Linked DNA regions of Homo sapiens: regions 2 and 3 are each linked to region 1. The links come from fine-mapping of genetic effects on gene expression. A gene starts in region 1. Each other region holds a variant in brackets. All regions are shown on one strand. Distances are between the middles of the regions.

Evidence for each region.
Region 2: its variant is fine-mapped to the expression of BEND6 in kidney cortex (GTEx, PIP 0.94).
Region 3: its variant is fine-mapped to the expression of BEND6 in coronary artery (GTEx, PIP 0.97).

What each region holds. Positions count from the first base shown.
Region 1 is chr6:56,953,792-56,956,554 of GRCh38, reverse strand. BEND6 (BEN domain containing 6) reads right to left here and starts at 1,448. Exons shown (of 7, transcript NM_152731.3): 1 at 1,095-1,448. DST (dystonin) reads left to right here and starts at 1,725. Exons shown (of 104, transcript NM_001374736.1): 1 at 1,725-2,148; 2 at 2,736-2,763. The coding sequence starts at 1,968. RefSeq lists a silencer at 1,260-1,949 and an enhancer at 2,111-2,742.
Region 2 is chr6:56,338,768-56,341,530 of GRCh38, reverse strand. It overlaps a transcript of COL21A1 not described here. Among named protein-coding and RNA genes, the nearest start is that of COL21A1, 93 kb to the right of the region's middle. The variant A/G (reference allele first, on the strand shown) is at 1,175.
Region 3 is chr6:56,475,626-56,478,388 of GRCh38, reverse strand. DST (dystonin) reads left to right here. Exons shown (of 104, transcript NM_001374736.1): 91 at 901-1,044; 92 at 2,052-2,240. Among named protein-coding and RNA genes, the nearest start is that of COL21A1, 230 kb to the right of the region's middle. The variant G/A (reference allele first, on the strand shown) is at 1,051.

The DNA of each region.
Region 1 (2,763 bases):
TTTGTTTAAGGAAACCAGCTGTAAACAAAACGTATCTGTTGTTTTCCATGCTTATGAATCTGGCACTAAGAGACTGCATTAACCAATGCCTTTTTAGGTTTAATACTTACACACGGTAATATGTTACTGGCTTTAAGGACATCAATGATTAAGCTTTCATGCAGAGCTGTACGGTTTTGTATAGTTGGAAAACAACACTGATTTTGAGATCACTACAAGCAAATAAAACTTTTATTCCTCCCAATTATTTACCTGCTTTTCAAATTTTTATAAATTTTTATGACACAATTTCTTCAGTCTATTAAATATTCCAAAAAAGAGGCTAATACAGTTGTTATAAGAAACTCCGCAAATGCAGTCAAGTGTTACCTTGTCACTATAATTAAAGTTTTCTTATGCGAGTAAATGAAACAAACAATCCAGCCCCACACAGGGAAAGCCAGCATTGCCTTGGGGGCAGCAGAACGCGGCACAGCACCGCCCGCCAAGGCCGCAAGATGCCGCAGAATGACTGCTGCAGCAGCCGCTTCCTGGCCAGGTGGCCGTGGCCGTCCGCAGAAAGGCACACTGCAGCGCTCTCGCTATACCTTCCGTGCTGGCATTGCATCAGTGTTAAATCCCCTGGCCACCAACTGCCATATACTTTTTGCTGGTTATGAAGAAACGTGGGGAGGGGACAAAGGGGAGACAGAGTGTGCCTGCAAGTGTGAGAGATCACTATTGCCTCACACTCCCTAAAAAATTTCTCCCCCAAATGTTTATAAGCCAAGTACCAACTTACTTCATCTGCCAGGTCCCTAAATCTGAAATCGCCTTGCCCTTCAAATGCACTAAATGAGTCAGGGTTTTAGGGCAAACCCAGGGATACAAGAAGATCGAAAGTGCCCAATTCTTAGCTGCGAGATAAGCACCAAGTTTGGGGTGGAAGAGTTCACCTCTGCCGACCAGAGCGTACTACCCCGGAGCGCTCCTAGTTTAGAGAGGCTTGGAGAGGAGTGGGCCTCCCGTTCCTGGAGTATCCCAATTCCCAGGGAAGGCCCTTCCCGGCGCTCGCGCTTCAGAGTGCGAGGAAACCCCCACAAGCAATAGCTCACCCGGCTGCATTCTTCAAAGCCCCAACCTCGGGGCGGGGCGCAGGGAGGTGGGAGGTGGAGGGTAGCACCGCCGGGAGGCTCCTGTCAGCGCCTCTCGGTTTTCCCCCTGGCTCCTTGGCGCCCCCTGACGACGGGCTCCGCAGCAATTTGGCCGAGGGAGGCTGGATAGGCGGAAGCTCCGGGTGTCCGGGAAGCTAGAGGCACCCGGCCAATGCACCCGCGGACGGCGCGGACTGGCGGGCGGCCCCGCGGGAGGGCGCTGGGCTCTCAGGCCCGGGTGCAGCCCGCGGACGCCGCCGAAACCGCCGCAGCCATGTCCGCGCGCCCGCGCTGCCGCAGCCTGGCCGTGATGTCATCAGCCGAGCCCCCGCCGCGGCGCCCCATTCCCGCCCCCCGCAGGCTGCCGCGGCTGCAGCCTGAGCGCCGCGTCCCCGCCCCGACCCACGTGCGCCCGGCTTCTGGGATGCTGAGGTCGGCGGCGGCCGCAGGACGATGCGCGGGGCCCGGGCGGCCGCGGCGGCGGCGCTGCTCCTCCCCACTCGCCGCGTCCCCGGCGGGGCTGCGCCCGGGGGCTGCGCACGGACGGGGGCGGGGGCGCCTGGGGAGGGAGGGGAGAGGATCCCAGCCGCCGAGTCGCAGCCTCGTCGCTGTCTGCTGAGTCATGGCAAGCGCTCCCCGCAGCCCTGGATCACTCGCGTAGCGCGGCTGGCGCGGGGTGCGCAGCCATTGGGCTGGGCGCGGGGCCGCGAGCGCCAGGCATGACGCGCTGAGCCGCGCTCACCCGTGCCCGCCGTCCCGGCGTGCGCCCAGCGCGGGTGCCTGTGCCGCCGCCCTCCAGCCCCGCCGTCGAGTCGCCCTCGCCTCGCCCGCACCATGATCGCCGCGGCTTTCCTCGTCTTGCTGAGACCCTACAGCATCCAATGTGCCCTCTTCCTCTTGTTGCTTCTGCTGGGCACCATCGCCACCATCGTCTTCTTCTGCTGCTGGCACCGCAAGCTCCAGAAAGGGAGGCATCCGATGAAATCGGTCTTCTCGGGTCGTTCAAGAAGCCGAGGTAAGACACGCCGCGACGGGTTTCTGCGGGCTACCAGGAACAATTAAGCCGATTTGGAGAGTGAAGCGCGGCTCGCTCCCTTCTCCTCGGCTGCCCCTAGCCCCATCATTGCCCACTCCCCAGGCTGAGTGCGTTTCTTTAACGCCCCTTGCCCTTTTTGCCGTCACCTCCGCCCTCCAGTCTCCCAGGTTTGAATAACCACGGCGATGCCGAGGGCAGGGAGGGGAGGAAAGAACTCAAATTTTTAGTCAGTTTGCTAAAGCCTTAAGGGTAATTTGAGCGTAGTCCGGGGCTGCGCCAGCCTCGCCTTCACGCATCCTTCGCTGGAGCGTAGGGGTAAGAAAGTAAGGCATGGAAACTTCGGGGCTCCCCAACTCCCCCAGAACTTTCATGCAAACTTCTCGCGGAGAAATCACGTAGAGACCGATGGCCCCAGGACTCCTCCTCCCTCCCCCAGGATGTCCCACCGAATTCCAGGAGTCTGCGATGTGCTTTCCCAACCCTGGTCTCCCAGGTAAGTCATGAGTCACTCGGTAGGTGAAGAACAAGGAGTTAAATGAAGTCTCATTTATCTCTTTTCTCCCCAGATGCTGTTTTGAGATCGCACCACTTTCG
Region 2 (2,763 bases), 620 kb after region 1:
CCTTTTCCACAATATCATATAGTGGGAATCATAGAGTGTGTGGTCTTCTGGTCTTCTGACTGGCTTCTTTACTTTCATTTATGTTTCCTCCATGTCTTTTCATGGCTTGGCAGTTCATTTCTTTTTATCAATGCATAATATTCCATTGTATGGATTTACCACAACAAATGTAATTATTATTCCATCCTTGAATAATGGAGTTTATTGACATTATCTGAAAATAAATTCCATCATACCTTATCAAAATTTTCAAATGTGCTGAGAAAAATTTCTTGGATTTTCTGTTTCCCACAAATGTATTATCATAATTTTCCTTATATACCGATATTCTTTTCTTTCATTCAGTTTTAAATTTCTTATTTCCAAATGTATTCTCTCTTCTCTTCTGGAGCATGGAAGTCTAATATTGGGATCCAGCTTCCTGTCTGTAAATAGAGCAATGTAGCTCCTTGGAGATGAGTTTTGAAGTGGTGACCATTGCACAGACCACAAACGTTATGACTCTATCATGTCCTGGAAGTATGTTTCACACACCCATGAAAGTGCCTAGAGCCCCTAGTACTGTAGGCATAAGGAGACATGAATGCTGATTTTGTGTGTTCAATCAACAAAGGGGTCTGATTTCTTTCCACTTGCTGACACCTTGGGCTGACAGAGAACATAGATTACTTGCTCCATGAGCTAACAACTCCTCATGGAAAAATATGCAGGTAATTTTAGACTGGAATCCAACCCAATCTAAAATCACTTGTGGATATTAACTAATTTATCATGATTTTCAAATGACTCCAGTGTGAGAAAAATATTGGAAAACGTCGTTCATTGTTAGGAAGGTGTTCAGTAAGGTATTAACACTAGGGAAAGCCAAATTGCTACTTGAAAATAAACACAGCCAACAGAGAATCTCTGAATTTAAAGGTCTAGTGGGAAACTGATCAAATAAGTGTCTTCAAATAATTATATATGAAATATTCCACTAGTCCTTAGACCTAGCTGGTCCTCCTCTCCCCATCAACCAGGAGAAGTGGTGAAAGCATTAAACTTGGCCTTGAAAAGCTGCTGTCCTTCCCCAGCTGTATGACTTTGTGGCAGGGCACAAAGTCTCCCTCTCCAACCTCTGTATCTGTTTTGTCTCCTCCTCCCTGTGTGCCTTGCCCCAAGTCCCTGCCCCACC[A/G]CAACTTCTCCTTCAAGTTTCCTCCATGTCTTTTCATGGATTGATAGCTCATTTCAGTCCCATGATCTCTGTAGTCCTCAAGGAGAAAGACCACAGCCTTGTGCTGAGAATGGAATGGAGGAAACCCAGAATTGCTCCCAGGTGACTGATGAACAGGCCACTGAAGCGGGAGGGGTGAGGTGGGGCTCAGGAAAAATAAATCTAGATCAAATAAGAGAGGAAAAACAATGTATCTCTAAAGAAAAATATTTTTAATTAAGATGTGTTTGGCATGTACGGTTCTGAGATGGCGTTTTTTTTCCTCTCTGGGGTATTATCCAGTGCTAGGATATTGAGCCTCTCCAATCCTGACTTAGATGTCCAAACTACTGGCACAAGTAATCCCATTTTTTCCAAAAGTGTGATATTGACTGCATCATATTATCTTTTGGAGGTTTTTCATTTGTGACTAGCTGCTTGCATTTATATATTTTTTCCGGTATTCTCCCTATAAACTTATCCATTATACAGAAAACATTAAAGAATGATGACAAAACCAGATGTGGAAGGTATACTTTCAGTTGAGTTAAAGGGAAATATTTTTCTTATGATTCTGGAAGTAGCCAAAGCTGGTTTAGATTCCACTCATGGTGTCTGCACAAGCTTTAGTTCTCACTTTAACTAAACACTGGTGAATATAAATGTCTGGAAATCTACTATAAAGTTCAAAAGAATGTGGCTTTCAAAAGTGAACTGAGTCGCTTTAATGAAGTGTGTGCTACCCGGAGTTTTTCCTTCACTAACAGAGAGAAAACCAAAGATTTGGTAATATTGACTATCAACAACATAAATTCATATTCTAGATCAGTAATTCAAAACTCTTTTGTTTTTAAGACTATTTCAGGGGTGGAAAACCACATGAATCCTCATTATACCAACAAGAACCACAACTACAAAATAATTCTGAAAGACCACTAGCAAAATAATAAGGGTAGTACTACTTTCAGACACTGTAGGAGGTTTTTATTAAACGCAGTAATAAAATTTATGTTGGATAATAAAACATAGACGTTGCCATCTAATAAACCTTTACTAATTTTAGGAAACCAGCCTGTGAACTAAAAACAAGTCCCTCTGACCACCAAACAGGCTCCCATAGCCTGCAGGTAAAGCAACCTGATGAAGGAAGAAGGCTTTGGAGCCAGGTCTGGGTTCCATTCACACCTCTGCCACTTGATAACTGTGGTTCCTGGGGGGAAGTGATGCAGCTTTTCTAAGTCCAGTTTCCATCTGAGAGGATGATGATGATGGCTAATATGTAATATGCTATGCTTCATACATGCTACAGAGTAGTTCCTATTGGCTTGGGAAATGGCTACTAGAGACAAGAAATACTCCCTTTTATAAAGATAGTTACAAAAAGAGATCTGCTAAGCAGTCTTTTTAGGGATCATAAAGAAGCATGTGAGCTGCTTCTGCCACCCCAACCATCATGGGACCACCTTTCTCCCCAGAAGTCTATATAAGCAGGAGACAAGAAGATCCAGGGACTCATTCAAGAGAGGAGTTGAGAATCCAGTATTTATAGTGAGCCATTACTTTCTCCCTTC
Region 3 (2,763 bases), 480 kb after region 1:
CAGTTCTCACATGGGCTGACCTGCTGTCAGGCTCACTCTTCCAACCTCCCCTTCACTTTTTACTGCATAGACACTTTGGGCCCTCTCTCCCATACCCCCAAACATTTATCTTTCCTTACCCAGGCTTCTCTCTACTTTGTACTTTTTTATTCATGCTGCCATATTTCCTGGCATAGTTAATGCTATTTTAAATATTAACCTCCTTACCTTATTTGTTAGAACTTATTTTTGGTCAATCAGTATTGTTTCTATCTCTAGCAATACTGTCTCTCCCAATGCTATTCTCCATTAATAACATAATTATATCTAAATTTGGGAGAGTTATTTTTTTGTATAATACAGTTTTTGAAGCATGAAATATCCTATAAAGTTGGCCCTCTGTATCCAGATATTCAAAAATAAAATGGTTAAAAATATTCAAAAATAAAATGGATGGTTGCATCTGTACTGAAGATATACATACTTTTTTCCTTGTCATTATTACCTAAACAATACAGTATAACAACTATTTACAACAATTTACATTGTATTAGGTATTATTAGTAATCTAGAGATGATATGAAGCATATGGGGAGGATGTACTTAGGTCATATGCAAATACTACATCATTTTATATCAGGGACTTGAGCATCATTGGATTTTATTATGCACGGTATCCTGGAACCAACTCCCCTTGGATTCCAAGGGATGACTGTACTTGTATTTTGAAGTACATGTTAGAAAGTACTTTGTTTTCTATTTTGTCCCCTTTTCCTCCCCAATTAGTAGATGATTTTCACTGTGAATAAACCAATTGAAGTTTTTGTTTATTTGTTTAATTCTGGCAGTCAAACAAATGCCACCAGAGTTTTGTTTTCAGCCAATGCCAACAGTTAATTGAAGTCTTTGTTTCTGCTGTAGGAATTCATGAAGAAACTGGAAGAAAAGAGAGCTGAACTAAATAAAGCCACCACTATGGGCGACACCGTTTTGGCTATCTGCCACCCCGACTCCATCACTACCATTAAGCACTGGATAACAATCATCCGGGCGAGGTTTGAGGAGGTCAGT[G/A]TGTCTCAGATAATCTTCAGAGTAGCAATAGCTTTGAGAGTTGAGGGGTGTGGGAAATTTCAGGAATTAAGATGCACTTATGGCCATGGGAAAATGAGACCTCTACATAGAAAACGTTCTTTTAAATACGCTTCTTGTATGCATTACAATCTCTGCAATTCACTTTTCTTTAAAAGCTCAAAGAAATTTTGCAGCTATGTCCCTGGAAAATTAGAAGGCAAATATTTAGTACACTGTATAACATTTTGGCCTCCTTCCACATTGTTTCTGTTGAATAATCCAGCAGTTGGATGGTGTTTCGGAGCAGTATATACTGGTGGAGTGAATTGGTATACATAAAGTGAATTAATTCTGTATTTAATATCTTAGCTTTTTTTTTTCTTTCTTTTGACGGAGTCTCGATTTATTGCCCAGGCTGGAGTGCAGTAGCTGGATCTCGGCTCACTGCAACCTCTGCCTCCTAGGTTCAAGCAGTTCCTCTGCCTCAGCCTCCCGAGTAGCTGGGATTACAGGCGCGTGCCACCATGCCCAGCTAATTTTTTTGTATTTTTAGTAGAGATGGTTTCACCAGGTTGGTCAGGCTGATCTTGAACTGACCTCGTGATCCGCCCACCTCGGCCTCCCAAAGTGCTGGGATTACAGGCGTGAGCCACCACGCCCTGCCAGTATCTTAGCTTTTTACATTTCTACTCTGTGCCACATGGAGTAAGCTTACCTGATCCTTCAGAGAATGCATATTTGAACTCAAATTAGAAAGCAAAAGGAAGCCTGAGTGATTGACATGCATCTTTAAATTCTGAAGATGATGAACATCATCGTGGGCTCTCATGTCCTCCTCAAGCCAGATCTTGATGCCACTAATGGAATCTAAAAAGACCAGAAGCATTATGGGTCTAGCTCAGGATGATCCTAATTTTCATTTAAAATTTATTTATTTTACATCACTGCAATTATTTTACTAAGTTGGAGGAAATTCAGAGAAATTTCTGTTTCTCTGACAGGTGCTGGCCTGGGCAAAGCAACATCAGCAGAGATTAGCAAGTGCTCTGGCTGGGCTTATTGCCAAACAGGAATTGTTGGAAGCTTTGCTGGCTTGGTTGCAATGGGCTGAAACTACACTTACTGATAAGGATAAAGAAGTCATCCCCCAGGAGATCGAAGAGGTGAAAGCACTCATTGCAGAACACCAGGTAAAATAAATATAATCCTAACTCCTGTTAACCATTATCTCAGATATTTTCTTTCTTTCACTGCTGTACTTCTCAAAACATTGCTTTGTTCTCGTTATTTTCACTTCTTCAGACTCCTCAGCTCCTTACAACTGTGTTTCCAACTCTGCAACTGCCCTAAAACCTCTCTTTACAGGAACCCTCTGTGACCTTTGCAAAACTTTCCTTCTTTGTCCTCTGTGGGGTTACACTCGTGGTATTGTCTCACGTTCACTCCTGCCCTCCCTTTTGCCTTCTAAATGTCAGCTCTCCTTACTCCTTAGGTGTTATCCTCAGCTCTCTATTTCTCTCACTCTGTTCCCTCTTTTGGTGATCTCACCCACCTCCACCTCCCTGGCTTCAGTGGGTACAAGGTACCCACATTAAGGTATCCACATTAAATGTGGATGCATTATGTTCACATTGCATTAATCAAACAAGGTTTGATTGCTCTGCATTTTTATGTCTGTGAAGATGACTGTCATCACTTGAAATACATCATATG